Linked DNA regions of Homo sapiens. The protein of the gene in region 3 interacts with the protein of the main gene of each other region in a biochemical or structural test. Each region holds a gene or a part of one and is shown on either strand. Other genes may lie near its edges.

What was found. The genes of interacting proteins can lie anywhere in the genome.
Region 1: the proteins of MPP2 (region 3) and MYO18A interact in a test that uses a peptide from one of them, tested with the Homo sapiens proteins (one large-scale study listed by IntAct).
Region 2: the proteins of MPP2 (region 3) and KIF17 interact in a test that uses a peptide from one of them, tested with the Homo sapiens proteins (one large-scale study listed by IntAct).
Region 4: the proteins of MPP2 (region 3) and KCNA6 interact in a test that uses a peptide from one of them, tested with the Homo sapiens proteins (one large-scale study listed by IntAct).

What each region holds. Positions count from the first base shown.
Region 1 is NC_000017.11:29,173,899-29,177,398, forward strand, and holds part of MYO18A (unconventional myosin-XVIIIa), read right to left. Parts: intron 2,876-3,500; exon of another isoform or gene 2,674-2,875; intron 1-2,673.
Region 2 is NC_000001.11:20,669,508-20,673,007, reverse strand, and holds part of KIF17 (kinesin-like protein KIF17), read left to right. Parts: intron 1-811; coding exon 812-1,070; intron 1,071-2,516; coding exon of another isoform or gene 2,517-2,519; coding exon 2,520-2,587; intron 2,588-3,500. UniProt on the Homo sapiens protein: Dendrite-specific motor protein which, in association with the Apba1-containing complex (LIN-10-LIN-2-LIN-7 complex), transports vesicles containing N-methyl-D-aspartate (NMDA) receptor subunit NR2B along microtubules.
Region 3 is NC_000017.11:43,901,037-43,904,536, forward strand, and holds part of MPP2 (MAGUK p55 subfamily member 2), read right to left. Parts: intron 3,458-3,500; coding exon of another isoform or gene 3,425-3,457; coding exon 3,394-3,424; intron 529-3,393; exon of another isoform or gene 248-528; intron 1-247. UniProt on the Homo sapiens protein: Postsynaptic MAGUK scaffold protein that links CADM1 cell adhesion molecules to core components of the postsynaptic density. In CA1 pyramidal neurons, required for synaptic KCNN2-containing channel function and long-term potentiation expression.
Region 4 is NC_000012.12:4,807,886-4,812,133, forward strand, and holds the start of KCNA6 (potassium voltage-gated channel subfamily A member 6), read left to right. Parts: upstream 1-1,448; 5' UTR 1,449-2,156; coding exon 2,157-3,746; 3' UTR 3,747-4,248. UniProt on the Homo sapiens protein: Voltage-gated potassium channel that mediates transmembrane potassium transport in excitable membranes. Forms tetrameric potassium-selective channels through which potassium ions pass in accordance with their electrochemical gradient.

The sequences.
Region 1 (3,500 bases), about 15 Mb from region 3:
GTAGCTGTGACTACAGGTGTGCGCCACCATTACTGGCTAACTTTTTAAAAATTGTTTTAGAGACAGGTTCTTGCTATTCTGTCCAGGCTGGTCTCAAACTCCTGGCCCCAAGCAATCCTCCTGCCTCAGCCTCCTGAGTAGCTAGGATTACAGGCACCACCACTGCACCTGGCATATGAAAATATTTATGTACATATTCTTTGGGCAATTCCATTATAAGACATCTATAGGTACATTCACATAATATACATGGCTAATCCTTGCAGCATTGTTTATAATAGCAAGTCTATAAATATAAAAGTCCTTACTAGAGAATAGTAAAACTGGCCAGGTGCAGCGGCTCAGGCCTCTAATTCCAGCACTTTGGGAGGCCAAGGCGGGAGGACTGCTTGAGTCCAGGAGTTTGAGACCAGCCTAGACAACACAGTGAGACTCTGACTCTACAAAAAAATTTTTTAAAAGTAGCTAGGCAGTGGTGCACACCTGTGATACCAGCTACTTGGGAGGCTGAGGTGGGAGGATCACTTGAGCCTAGAAGTCAAGGCTGCATGAGCCAAGATTCGTGCTACTGTGCTCCAGCCTGGGTGGAGGGAGATTATGTCTCAAAAAATAAAAAAAATAAAAAAAAATAAAATGCTGGGCATGGTGGCTCACAACTGTAATCCCAACATTTTGGGAGGCTGAGGCAGGCAGATCACTTGAGGTCAGAAGTTCGAGACTAGCCTGGCCAACATGGTGAAACCCCATCTCCACTAAAAATACAAAACTTTGCCGGCGTAGTGGCGCACCTGTAATCCCAGCTACTCAGGAGGCTGAGGCAGGAGAATCGCTTGAATCCAGGAAGCGGAGGTTGCAGTGAGCCGAGATCACGCCATTGCAGCACTCCAGCCTGCGCGAAAGGGCGAGACTCTGTCTCAAAAAAAAAAGCTAAATTATACAACTGAGCAGTTGTATAATTAAAAGTAAAAAGAATGAAGTAGATTTGTATACACTGACCTGGAAAGATTCTATACTATATTGTTAAGTGAAAAAATAGGTTGCAGGATAGTTTATAATTTTGCTAAAATTTAAAAACCTATATCTATATATGTGCATGAATATATTACATGTACGTTGTGTACAATATTTGCATATGTGTAGGAAAAATATATGCTCTGGGGAGGAGACTGGAATTTTAGAAGGGTCAAATAGACTTGTGTTTCATCCATATTTTAATTTTTTTTCTTTTTTTTTAAATAACAGAGATGGGGTCTCACCATGTTGGTCAGGCTGATCTTGAACTCCTGGCTTCAAGTGGTCCACCCACCTTGGCCTCCAAAGTACTGGATTATAGGCATGGGCCACCGCACTCGGGCTATATTTTAATTTTTTATAAGAACATTCATCTGGTAAATGTGTATTTGCTTACACCTAGGAGCTTCAGGGAGTGGAATTATCTATCATTTTTCTTCTACTTTTATTTCATCTTTTTTTTTTTTTTTTTTGAGACAGGGTCCCACTGTGTCCTCCAGGCTAGAGTGTGGTGCGATCTCGGCTCACTGCAGCCTCAACCTCCTGGGACTCAAGCGATCCTTCCCACCGCAGCCTCCTGAGTAGCTGGGACTACAGGCACTCGCCACCACACCCAGCTAACTTCTGTATTTTTTGTAGAGACAGGGTCTTGCCATGTTGCCCAGCCTGGTCTCAAATTCCTGGGCTCAAGCAATCTGCCTATCTCAGCCTCCCAAAGTCCTGGGATTACAGGTGTGAACCACTGTGTCCGGCCTACTACAGAAATTTTTTAAATATTTATATAAGATGATATTTTATAAAACATATATTAAACTATAAACATATATAGTGCCTAAAATATATATAACAAGCTTTTAAAAAGCAGTCTGGCCAGGCGCAGTGGCTCACACCTGTAATCCCAGCACTTTGGGAGGCCGAGGCAGGTGGATGACGAGGTCAGGAGTTCAAGACCAGCCTGGCCAAGATGGTGAAACCCTGTCTCTACTAAAAATACAAAAAAGTAGCCGGGCGTGGTGGCGGGCGCCTGTAATCCCAGCTGCTCGGGAGGCTGAGGCAGAGAATTGCTTGAACCCCGGAGGCGGAGGTTGCAGTGAGCCAAGATTGCGCCACTGCACTCCAGCCTGGGTGACAGAGCGAGACTCCTTCTCAAAAAAAACAGCAGTCTGGAAAAATTCGATCCAAAAATTTATCAGTGGTCATCTCTGGAGAGTAGGGGAGAAGAAGGGTAACACTTTAGTAACGCTTTAGCTTTCTACCTAATGATTCAACTTTTTTCCAGACTAAAAAAAAATGGACAAACTAGTAGGCAATCCACCAGCAGTAAAGCTGCAAACAGGGTAATGGTCAGTTTAAGGATTGCCTTCATGTCTTGAAAAAGTTTCAGTGGCTTGGGGGACTTGGTTAAAATAGAGTTCACTGGTGTCTTGTGGCTGTAAGTGGGGACACATTTAAATGGGTCACCTAGCAGCTGGCAAAAGAAAAAAAAAACCCAGGAAATGGAAACTATAACGTTAGAGTCCCAAGACAAGGGTGCCCAGAGTTGGCTGTGGTGGATAGATACTTAGGTCAGTCCTCCCACCCCCACCCCCAGACCACACTCATAAATAAATACAAAGGAAATACTTTCCCGAGAGAGCCGGCCTCTCTCCCTTGGCCTCTGACCTCCCTGAGCGGCCGTTTCCTCCAGCCCCGGGACCCCGGCTCTCTCCCCGCGCTCTGCCCCTCGCCAAGGGTTGTAGCAGCGGCCGGAGGGGTAGCCAGCACCTGGCCTGGCCCCGTGCTCCAGGGGGAGCCTCCTCCCGGCCGGCTGTGCTGAGCTCCGCAGCGCCGGGTGACTCCCTGCCAGGTCACACGGAGCTTATCTGGCTCCAGGTGTGCTCCCTCACGCCGACTGCACGCTTCTCACGTGACATTAGCCAGCCCTCACGCCGCCGCGCGGGGAGCCGGGCGGCCCTTGGCGTTTCCCCGCGGCTGGGCCGGCGCAGCCGCAGCCCCGCGGCGCCTCCCGCTGCGATCCCATCTCCCCCGGAAGGCAGCAATCCCGCGGGCCATGGAGGAACGCGAGCGGGAGAGCTCCTGCGGCCTCGCCAGGTTCCCTGCTGCTCTTCCAGGTGCACCGCCTGGCGCTCAGTTCCGCTAACATCCCCTTCCGTGTGACCTTGAGCAAGTCCCCTCCCCTCTCTAAGCCTCCACTATTTCAGCTACAGTTATCTTCAAGGGCCTGACAGCTCAGATTTGGCCCTCAGCCTCTGCTGGAGAGCTATTCTGCTCAACCACACACTGCAGGTTGTAATCCCGCTCTGCCTCTGACTTGCTGTGTGACCTTCAGCCCATCATCCAACCTCTCTGAATATTAGAGAATAATCACAATAATCTCTTGTAAGTGATGATAAACTACTTGGCAGACAGAAAGGGCCCTGGGTCCTGTAAAATCATCAGTCTAACAACCAAAACTGCTGCCTGACTCTAAACTGTTTAAAATGTCAAGG
Region 2 (3,500 bases), on a different chromosome or scaffold from region 3:
AGTGATCCGCCCGCTTCGGCCTTCCAAAGTGCTGGGATTACAGGTGTGAGCCACCACGCCCTGCCTCAAACATCCTTCTTTACTAATCAGACTGTACCTGCTCTTTGAGGAAACAGACTGTGCACCAGGTAGTCTTGGGGCTCAGGGAGAGGGTGGTTATGGCTGGGGCTGGCAGTCACCTGTGCTCAGGAGGGACCGGGGGACCGGTCTGGCAGACTTGAGCAGGAGACCAAAAGAATCTGGAACCCTTGATCAGATCAAGGTGGGTCTTACTCTTAGGTCCATTGTTTAGGTCCAGTGTTTGTCACACCGTCACACAGGGCTGTGGCAGTGGGAGAGTGAGGATTGTCAAGTCGGAGAGTTTGTGCCTGTTGTCCTCCTTAGAGATGTCACTTGTGCAATTCTCTGATATCCTTTAGAACGGTGGTGTTGGATGTGGGGACTTCTCAAAGGCTCCTGAATAAAATGTACAATGGGAGATAGTGACTGAGGGGCTGGCTGTTGGGATTGCTGATCAACTTTTCCCCTACATTTTGCAGGGCTGGGGGGACACATTAGGTGCTCATTTAAATGCTGGGTGGAGAGACAGCAGGGTGATTGGATAGACGGAAGGATCAGTGGGTGTGAGAGGAGGTGGATGGATGGATGGAGGGAAGGATGGCTGGATGGATGGTGGGGATGAGAATGGATGGCTGATCAGGCCAATGAACAGACGATGCGTGGCTGCTGGCAGGACAGTGAGTGGACAGGGTGGTTAGATGGAAGGGGAGGTATCTTTCCCTGCTCACTGCTTGTCATCCTTTGCTTTCAGCTTCGGGCAGCAGAGGTGGAGATCAAAGATCTGCAGTCCGAGTTTCAGCTGGAGAAGATCGATTACTTGGCCACCATCCGCCGGCAGGAGCGTGACTCCATGCTCTTGCAGCAGCTCCTGGAGCAGGTGCAGCCCCTGATTCGCAGGGACTGTAACTACAGCAACCTGGAGAAGATTCTGCGTGAGTCCTGCTGGGACGAAGATAACGGCTTCTGGAAGATCCCACATCCCGTCATCACAAAAACCAGCCTCCCAGTAGGTCAGGAGCTTGGCTGGCCCTTGCCCTCCCCTCCCTCCTTCACGGCTTACCATCCTGCAGACTGGCAGGGAGTGTGGGCCTCTCCTTGCAGGCTGTGGGTGTAGAAGACACGTGACCCTGGGTACCTGATGCGTCAGGACTCTGAGAAAGTGGTGTGTTCTGGAGGCAGACAGATGTGGGTTGGAATTCTGGCAGCACCGTTCCCTGTGTGCCCTTTTTGGGACTCGGTGTCTTCATCTGTGAAATGGGGATGAATAACAGCACCTTTCTTAAAGTTGCTGTAAGGTTTGAAATGTGTTAATAGGCCAGGTATGGTGGCTCACGCCTGTAATCCCAGCACTTTGGGAGGCTAAGGCTGGCAGATTGCTTGAGTCCAGGAGTTCGAGACCAGCCTGGCCAACATGGTGAAACCCTGTCTCTAAAAAAAAAAAATAGAAAAATTAGCCAGGCATGGCAGCATGTACCTGTAGTCCCAGCTACTATGGGGGCTGAGGCGAGAGGATCGCTTGAGCCTGGGAAGTCAAGGCTGCAGTGAGCCAAGATCGTGCCACTGCACTCCAGCCTGGGTAACAAAGTGCGACCCTGTCTCAAAACAAACCCCGAAAAAACAAAAACCAGAAATGTGTTAATACACAGAAAACCCTTACAGCAGTGCCTGGCACATAGTGATGCTCGCTGCATGTCATTGTTATCCTAATCAGCATTGTCACTGGTTCATCCTTACGACAGCCCTGAGAAGACAGGTTTTCTACCCATTTCACATAGGAGGACACAATCTCAGAGGGTCCAAAGTCACAGTCACAGCAGTGAGTGGGAGGACCATGGATCAAAACCCACAGTTCAGAGTTTCAGGCCTGGTTCCACTTCCGCTCTTGCTGCTGACCTCCCGTATGGCCTTCCGAAGATCACTGTCCCTCTCTGGGCTTCTTTACAAAGAAGGGGTTGGATCAGATGACCTTGAAAGCCTCCTCACCTCTGATGAGTCTCAGAGTAAAGCCAGACATGCTGTGGCTCTTTCTCCAGCCGTGGACCTGACTCTGCCCATTTGGGGAGCCCGCAGTGCCCCCCAGGAGTCCTCCCTCTTGCTCAGCGTGTTCATCCAGGTCCAACATCTCTGATGTTTATTGACACCATCCCTGCTGAGACCCCAGCCCGCCTCCATTTCCCACATGCTCTGGGATGCAGCAGCCTTCCTGTCTGTCCCCACCCTCGCCTGCTGTCTTGCCTGGAAGCCCCTTGGCTGCTGTCTTGCCTGCAAGCAGATGAGGGTCTTCTCTGGTGCCTGAGCCCCTCCTGCTGTCTGTTTCTTAAAATTATCCCTTGGCTTGGGCTGGGAAGTGTCCTCCCCTGTTTAAGCCTGAGCCAGGCCTGACCCCCACCTCCACCTGTGCCCTCCTCTAGGCCTTGCACCAGGCAGCAGTGACTTCAGCTTTTGTTTTCTCATAGCAGTTTCAACTGGGCCACAGAACAAACCAGCCCGCAAAACCTCTGCAGCAGACAATGGCGAGCCGAACATGGTGAGGACCGCGGGAGAGGGAGTGGGGTGTCGGGGGCTGGGAGGGCTTTGCCCCCAGTGCTGTGGGTCAGTGTTACTGTGGAGAGCTGGTTTTCCACTTTCCTCCCGCCTAAGGATTAAAGAAGGGGCCAAGGCTGGATCCTTTTCATGCCCCTCCATTGGCACCTAGACCCTCAACCCCCTCTGGCCCTCATTCAAAGGTACTCACAGTCATAAATACCAAGGGAAAGTAGATGGTTCGGTGGCCCATCTTGCCGGTGAAGGACAGAGACTTCAGCCTCAAACTCAGAGGACAAGCAGCACATTCTGGTTTCCTGCTGGTAATCCTCAGACCAAGAGGGTCCTCACAGGGTTCATGAAGCAGTAATTGGGATTCCTAAGTCACTTTATTTTCCCGTCTCTCATATTCTGTCTTTTTTTTTTTTTTTCTTTTTCTAAGCTCAGTGGCAAGACCTATCTCCTATATTTTATAGTGCAACAGAAATGCATGTTCTTAAAGCATGGGTGGTGGTGGTTGTTTTTTTTTTTTTTTTTTTTTTTTTTTTTTTTTTTTTTTTGAGATGGAGTCTCGCTCTGTCACCAGGCCGGAGTGCAGTGGTGCGATCTTGGCTCACTGCAACCTCTGCCTCCCAGGTTCAAGCAATTCTCCTGCCTTGGCCTCAGCTGGGACTACAGGCGCGCACCACCATGCCCAGCTAATTTTTGTATTTTTAGTAGAGACAGAGTTTCACCGGGTTGGCCAGGATGGTCTCGATCTCTTGACCTTGTGATCCTCCTGCCTCAGCCTCCCAGAGTGCTGGGATTTCAGGCATGAGCCACCACGCCCGGCCTCTATTTTATTTTATTTTATTTTATTTATTATTATTATTATTATTATTATTATTTCGAGACAGAGTCTCGCTCTGTCGCCCATG
Region 3 (3,500 bases):
ATGCCCTCTGACCTCTGCTCTCAGTCCCCTCTCCAGGCCCTGTTTCCTTTACAATAGTCCCTCAGTCTAAGGAAGTCCCCAAGAACGACTCAGCCCTCCACCGGGAGGCAGCCTCACTTGGGCATGGGGCAAATACCTCAAGCCTCAGACGCCTCCCCCTACCCACCCTTGGTCAGCCACTGGGAGGCAGGGTACGTGGGGGAGGTGGCATCGCTGTGGGTAGGGATGGTGCCCCAGCCCTGCTTACCCCTCGCCTCACAGCAGCTTCTTCCCCTCCCCCATCTCCCATGAGTTCTTCCTCTTAATGAAGGGGATGATGCCCAGGAAGCAAGTCAGGCATCTTGGAACTCAGTTCCCCAGAAAGGAAAAATGAGGGCACATTTGCACACAGGGAAAAGTGTGGGCAGAAGGGAAGGACTCAGCTCCGCTCCGGTGACCCCATTCCTCTGAGATCTTGTGCCCAAGAGGCCACCATCAGGGTACTGCAGCCTCCACTCAGACATTCCCTGAGGAGTGGCACCAGGTCGCATTGCACCCCTGGTTGCCATGACAGTAGAATTACACACCAGGACAGTAACCCAGGGATGGAGGAGAGATTTAAAGGGACAGCTCCACCTGAAAGCAGCCACATATCCCAGCCTTGATCCAAAAAAGGGAGGGAATCTGGTGACAGGGGAAGAGGGAGCAAGGCTGCAGGTCAGGAGATGCCAGGTTCAGGATCTCTAAGTTCTCAGCCCAGTGCCACTGTCCATTTATCTCCCAAGTCTCAGGAAAAGGGCCCCTGACTCTACCCAAAGTAGATATGGGGTCTCCCTGCAAGAGGAATACACCCATACCCTTTCCCTCCCTTCAACCATACTGACCCATGGGGAAGGGCGGAAAAAGGATCTTATTAGCTTTGCCCTTTGCAGAGTCCAAGGCAGGGATCTCCCAGGGGAGGAGGAGGGAAGGGGAGCCTGAACTCAGAGGCAGGGACACAGCTGTCTCTCTATCCTGTGGGAAGTATAATGACCACCAGATAATAAGGGGCAGAATCCACCATTAGATTTTTGAAGCTGGGAGCTAATGTAGCTCAGGATAGGACAGAGGCTGCCTGAAGGAAGAAAAACACTTTGTACTTCTTCCTTTGAATATGAGAAGCCAGGAGCAGCCCCTCGAACAACATGAAGGGGAGCAGGAGCCCCAGGAGTCCTTTGAGGAAGCAGAACCCACCGCCACACCCCAAGGCTCCACTCCCTGTCCCCCATCCTCCCCCACCACGCCCCCATCAAGTGGTCTGCAACAACGAAGCCAAATTGCTGGGCTTGCTCCTCCTCCTACGCCCCAGTCAGGCACTATTGGTGGGTTTACTGGGCAGTCCCGGCTGGAGAGGCCATTAAGCACAGGCTCAGGGGTGGGTTTAATTAATGCCTAAGCAGCTTACAGTGGGGCCTAGGCAGGCTGAAAGAGGCAGGGAGACCCCAGGGAGCCCAGCAGGCTGGACAGGAGATGGGGGACTGAGCCCTCTGATGCTGCAGAAGCTGGGGACATTGGTGCCATCCCTCCACTGCAAGGAGAAGAGGCCTTTCCTGGACAAGTGTACCACAGTTTAGGCCCTGGCTCACTCCCTTCACTTTCTCGGAGAGGAGGCACAGAGGAATCATTCTACCCAAAGTGGCAGCCCTGGAACCTCTGGCAGAGGCAGTAGTGGGGCCTAGAGCAAGGGAAGGAGCTGCATGGGAGGGAGGCATCCAGGCAGGGGGAAGTTCAGACAACTCAGAGCAGAACCATAGCAGTTCCCAGCTGCCCGGGCCTCAGAGGGCCTCTAGCACAGGGAACTTAACCTTCTGGGGTCCTGCGTGCACTACGGGAATCCATGATCCCCTAGAGTAGAATATACCTTTTGTGCATGGATGTATATGTCTACGATGAGGGCTCACTGCTGTCACCAGATTCTAAGTGACTCAGGACCAATAAAATTAAGAACAGGCCAGGTGTGGTGGCTCATGCCTGTAATCCCAGCACTTTGGGAGGCCAAGGCAGGTGGATCACCTGAGGTCAGGACAGCCTGGCCAACATGGTGAAACCCAGTCTCTACAAAAATACAAAAATTAGCTGGGCATGATAGCAGGTGCCTGTAATCCCAGCTACTTGGGAGGCTGAGGCAGGAGAATCACTTGAACCTGGGAGGTGAAGGTTGCAGTGAGCCGAGATCCCACCACTGCCCTCCAGCCTGGGCAACAGAGGGAGACTCCATCTCAAAAAAAAAAAAAAAGAAAAAGAAAAAAGTTAAGAACACTGATCTTGTCCCATCATCTCATCTTAGGGAAATCTCAGGTCTTCAAAAGGAGGTGACTGTTTCAAGGACACAGGGTTAATGCCAAAATAACAACTCAGGCCAGGCACAGTGGTTCACACCTGTAATCCCAGTAGTTTGGGAGGTCGAGGCGGGTGGAGTACTTGAGCTCAGGAGTTTGAGACCAGCATGGGCAACATTTTTGTCTTTACGAAAAATACAAAAATTAGCTGGGCATGGTGGTGCACACCTGTAGTCCCAGCTACTTGGGAGGCTGAGGTGGGAGAATGACTTGAGGCTGGTAGGCAGAGGTTGCAGTGAGCCAAGCTTGCGCCACTGCACTCCAGCCTAGGCTAAAGAGCCAGAACTTGTCTCAAAAACAACAACAACAACTTGGTGGCAGCGGCAGCAACAGCAGCATAATAATTATGACTATTCCTAAAAGTAATGTGCTCTCCCATTACAGCCTTTGCGTCTCACAGCAGCCTCTTTACAGAAGAAGAAATGCGAGCTCCAAGAGGTTAAGCAGTTTGCCACTGAGGCTTTGCTAGTTTGTCTGAGTGGCCCACTCCCTTGTCCTAATGCCTCCTACAGAGCCACGTCCAGGTATCCTAACCTGGTATTCTTGTTCCTTCACTCACAGCTTCCTGGTCCCCAGTACCCCCTGTCCACCTCTGGCACATGCTGGCCTAGTGGGCAGCGATTATGGACTTCTCAGCCCCAGGCTGTGCTGCTGTAATCCCTCCACCCCCAAGCCATTCTCCAAGGCCCAGCTCCGGGGCCACCTCCTGAAGGCCTGGTCCTATGCCACTGCCCTCCAGCAATAGTACGGGTCACCTCTGGAGCATGCATCCCCTGCCCTCCACGGAGGTGAGTTGTGCTCCAGCCCTACACTGGAGCAGGTATGGGTCTTATTCTTTCTCTTCTCCGTTCCAGCACAGGAACCCACACAGAGGAGATGGCCACAGCAGCTGCCAGAAGGAATGGCTGAGTGGTAGGGTGGACAGCAGTGGAGCCAGTTGGTTCTTATCTGGAGCTGTGCAAGTGCCCACCCCTAAGTCCTCGCCTGGCACCCTCTGAACCACTGAAATAAGCTAACATCCTCACCCCCTTCTTACCAGTTTCAGAGTTGGTGGCGGCAACCGGCATGGTGAAGGAGGCAAGGGCTCTGAAACGTCTCTCCTGGAGAGGGGAGAGAGGAGGATGAGCAGATACAAGGGCAAAG
Region 4 (4,248 bases), on a different chromosome or scaffold from region 3:
GATCCCTTCCCGACACATCCAGGAGCCTTGGTTCTCTCCTTCCTCCAACTCTCTGAGAGTGAATGCTGCTGAGAACCACTGTGGTTTTAAAATACTCCGTGCAATACAAAGAACTCTCAGATGCATCCTGTGGTTTGAGAGCACCTTTATGTGTCATTCTCATCATTAACCTCAATGAATGCATACTAATGATCTAATATGCACCAGAAGCTACACAAAAACACTTTGTAGTTGTTAGCCAATTCATTTTGGCTACAGCCAGCCAGAAAAGAGGAAACTGAGGCACAGAGAAGCAAATGTCAACCCTACCTGGAAGTGTCAGTCTGAAAAGATCAGTTGAGTCTTCCTCTACCAGACCCCAACTTGTCTGGTCTCGTGAAGAAAGACAGAAATGGATGGAAAACCATTCTTATCACCTTCTTGCTGGAGAGTTAGGGAAGAGTCAGCTGGTCCCTAACAACAAACTTTGCCCTACTCCAGTACTGCCAAAGGGGTCTTTGTTGTAACATGGCCTACAAGGAGAGGACATCTTTCTGGGAAAGCACCTAGAATGTGGCTGGCACATATTCAATGCCCAGTAAATGTAGCTATTATTTTTTCAATCAACACTCTTACATACCCCTTTTCCACTCACCCTCTTCTCCCTTTTTTTGGTCACCCAATAAGCAGAAATTCCAGATGCATCCTTCGGGGTGGTTGGGAGCAAAGGATCCCCAGGGTGCACTGTGCCCTGGGCTGAGGTATCTCTGAGGTGCTTCCATCTTCTGGGTCCTTCCTCACTGGGGTTGTTGCCTCAGGCTCTCAGGACTCCCCTGGAAATCTTCTGATGGGAAAGGCATTGATTGACTTGCCACCCTTTCTCTACCATCCCTTTGCAATTCTGGGAGAGTTGCAGCCCCGCCCTCCCAGGCTTGCAAAGGTAGACGGAGAATTATATTGGAATTTAAATCGGAAGCTCTCAAGGCATCTCAAAAATACTTTCTCTATTTTTTTTTTCCTGTAGATATTGGAGAGGTTGGCAAACGGGTCTTCCTGAAGACAGAAGAATGTATGATTTAATGTTTTCTTTAGATTTCTGTATGAGTGGATGCACAGTGCTCCGTATTGTGTGGTGGGGCGGGGTGTGTCTTCTTATTGATGAAATACACTGCGCAGGTCAACTCGGTAAATTGAAATGAGAAGAGCCGACTGCGGGGGTGGAGGGGGTGTGGTATTAGGGTGCCGGCGCTTGTGGAGGGGGGCGCGAATGTGAACGTGTGAAAGCGAGAGGCGTGCCAGGAGAGCGCGGGAAAGCTTACTGGTGAGGCAAGTGTGCGTCTATTTCCATGGCGCCCTGGCTCGCGGCAGCCCCTGGCTGGGCGAGGGGTGTGATGTGGGAGTGGGGTGGGAGGGGGCAGCAGGCGGGGCCTGCCACGTCACTTGGAGAGTGTGTGTTGGGAAGGAAGGGCAGAGCGGAGAGCCGAGCCGCTGCAGCTGCGGCGGCGGCAGCGAAGCCTTGAGCCGTGGGGAGGTGGGTCCCCGCGCTCGGGCGCCGGGGCAGCCCCGGGCCCTCTGCGAGGCCTGCGGCGCGGCTCCTAGGGAGGAGGTGGCGGCTGTGGCGGCCGGAACCGCGACCTTGGCCGGACCCAGCCCCGCGGTGGACGCAGGGCGGAGGCCGAGCCCCGCCAGGAGTCTTTGCCGAGCCGGAGGGAGGCGCATCTGGCGCTTCGGTACCAGCGGCAGCCGGGGGTCCGGAGCGGCTGGAGGAGCGCAGTGGGAACTGGGAAGAGCTAGCCCGGCTGGAGGGCGGACCTCTGCGTCCGGGAGCCGGGTCTCAGGCACCGCTGGGGGCGAAGCCACGCGTCTTTTCGGGCAGCCAATTTCACACGCGCCTGTGTGCGGTTCCGGGCATCCCAGTAAGCTCTAGCACCCGGGCGCGGGTAACGGGAAGCGCAGAACCAAATCCCCAGCGCCCAGGTCACCTCCCCAGACCCAGCCTTGCAGGGACCAGGGCTTTAGGGCTCACGGACCCAACGGCCAGGTCAGACCGCGAACCGGGAGGAGCGCGGGCCCCACCCTAAAGAGGGCGCAGCCGGGAGCTGGGGAGCGGGTGCCGCGCTCCAGAGATTGTGTCGTGGGCGCCGTCCTAGTGGCGGGGAGCGCACCTCCGAGGGGGCATGAGATCGGAGAAATCCCTTACGCTGGCGGCGCCGGGGGAGGTCCGTGGGCCGGAGGGAGAGCAACAGGATGCGGGAGACTTCCCGGAGGCCGGCGGGGGCGGGGGCTGCTGTAGTAGCGAGCGGCTGGTGATCAATATCTCCGGGCTGCGCTTTGAGACACAATTGCGCACCCTGTCGCTGTTTCCGGACACGCTGCTCGGAGACCCTGGCCGGCGAGTCCGCTTCTTCGACCCCCTGAGGAACGAGTACTTCTTCGACCGCAACCGGCCCAGCTTCGACGCCATCCTCTACTACTACCAGTCTGGGGGCCGCCTGCGGAGGCCGGTCAACGTGCCCCTGGACATTTTCCTGGAGGAGATCCGCTTCTACCAGCTGGGGGACGAGGCCCTGGCGGCCTTCCGGGAGGACGAGGGCTGCCTGCCCGAAGGTGGCGAGGACGAGAAGCCGCTGCCCTCCCAGCCCTTCCAGCGCCAGGTGTGGCTGCTCTTTGAGTACCCAGAGAGCTCTGGGCCGGCCAGGGGCATCGCCATCGTCTCCGTGTTGGTCATTCTCATCTCCATAGTCATCTTTTGCCTGGAGACCTTACCCCAGTTCCGTGTAGATGGTCGAGGTGGAAACAATGGTGGTGTGAGTCGAGTCTCCCCAGTTTCCAGGGGGAGTCAGGAGGAAGAGGAGGATGAAGACGATTCCTACACATTTCATCATGGCATCACCCCTGGGGAAATGGGGACCGGGGGCTCCTCCTCACTCAGTACTCTTGGGGGCTCCTTCTTTACAGACCCCTTCTTTCTGGTGGAGACGCTGTGCATTGTCTGGTTCACTTTTGAGCTCCTGGTGCGCTTCTCCGCCTGCCCTAGCAAGCCGGCCTTCTTCCGGAACATCATGAACATCATTGACTTGGTGGCTATCTTCCCCTACTTCATCACCCTGGGCACTGAGCTGGTGCAGCAGCAGGAGCAGCAACCAGCCAGTGGAGGAGGCGGCCAGAATGGGCAGCAGGCCATGTCCCTGGCCATCCTCCGAGTCATCCGCCTGGTCCGGGTGTTCCGCATCTTCAAGCTCTCCCGCCACTCCAAGGGGCTGCAGATCCTGGGCAAGACCTTGCAGGCCTCCATGAGGGAGCTGGGGCTGCTCATCTTCTTCCTCTTCATCGGGGTCATCCTCTTCTCCAGTGCCGTCTACTTCGCAGAGGCTGACGATGACGATTCGCTTTTTCCCAGCATCCCGGATGCCTTCTGGTGGGCAGTGGTTACAATGACCACGGTAGGTTACGGGGACATGTACCCCATGACTGTGGGGGGAAAGATCGTGGGCTCGCTGTGTGCCATCGCTGGGGTCCTCACCATTGCCCTGCCTGTGCCCGTCATCGTCTCCAACTTCAACTACTTCTACCACCGGGAGACGGAGCAGGAGGAGCAAGGCCAGTATACCCACGTCACTTGTGGGCAGCCTGCGCCGGACCTGAGGGCAACTGACAACGGACTTGGCAAGCCTGACTTCCCCGAGGCTAACCGGGAACGGAGACCCAGCTACCTTCCTACACCACATCGGGCCTATGCAGAGAAAAGAATGCTCACGGAGGTCTGACCCATGCAGGCAGGGCCTGCAGGAGGGGAGCACTGAGCTAACAGTCTCTTAGGCTTCCTTCTCATTTCCACTACTCACTCTAGCTTCAGTTGACTTCTTGACTCTCTCCCCTACACCCACTACCTGGCATCCAGGACCAAATACCTGGACTATCAACCTTGTTGCTTAATCCCTGCAGCATTCAAGGTTAATCCATCTAAGTGACATTTTTGAAATTCCAGCGGTGCCACCCAATCATGCCCAGCTTCTGTCATATGAATGAGATATACATTTATGTCTGACCTTCCCTCAAGACTGATTTTTCATGTCTGGGACTTACAATATCTCAAGGAACAGCAATGTCAACAGGATGGAAACCAGCCCTATCTGAGTCTTCGCTCCCTCCTTAGTGTTCTTTGCTTTGGGTCATGTGCGTTTCCTAGCTTCAGGCTACTTGGTAACTGGAAGAAGCTGGAGGACAGAAGCAGTACTCAACTTGCTGTTATTCCAGTGCCCTGTAACA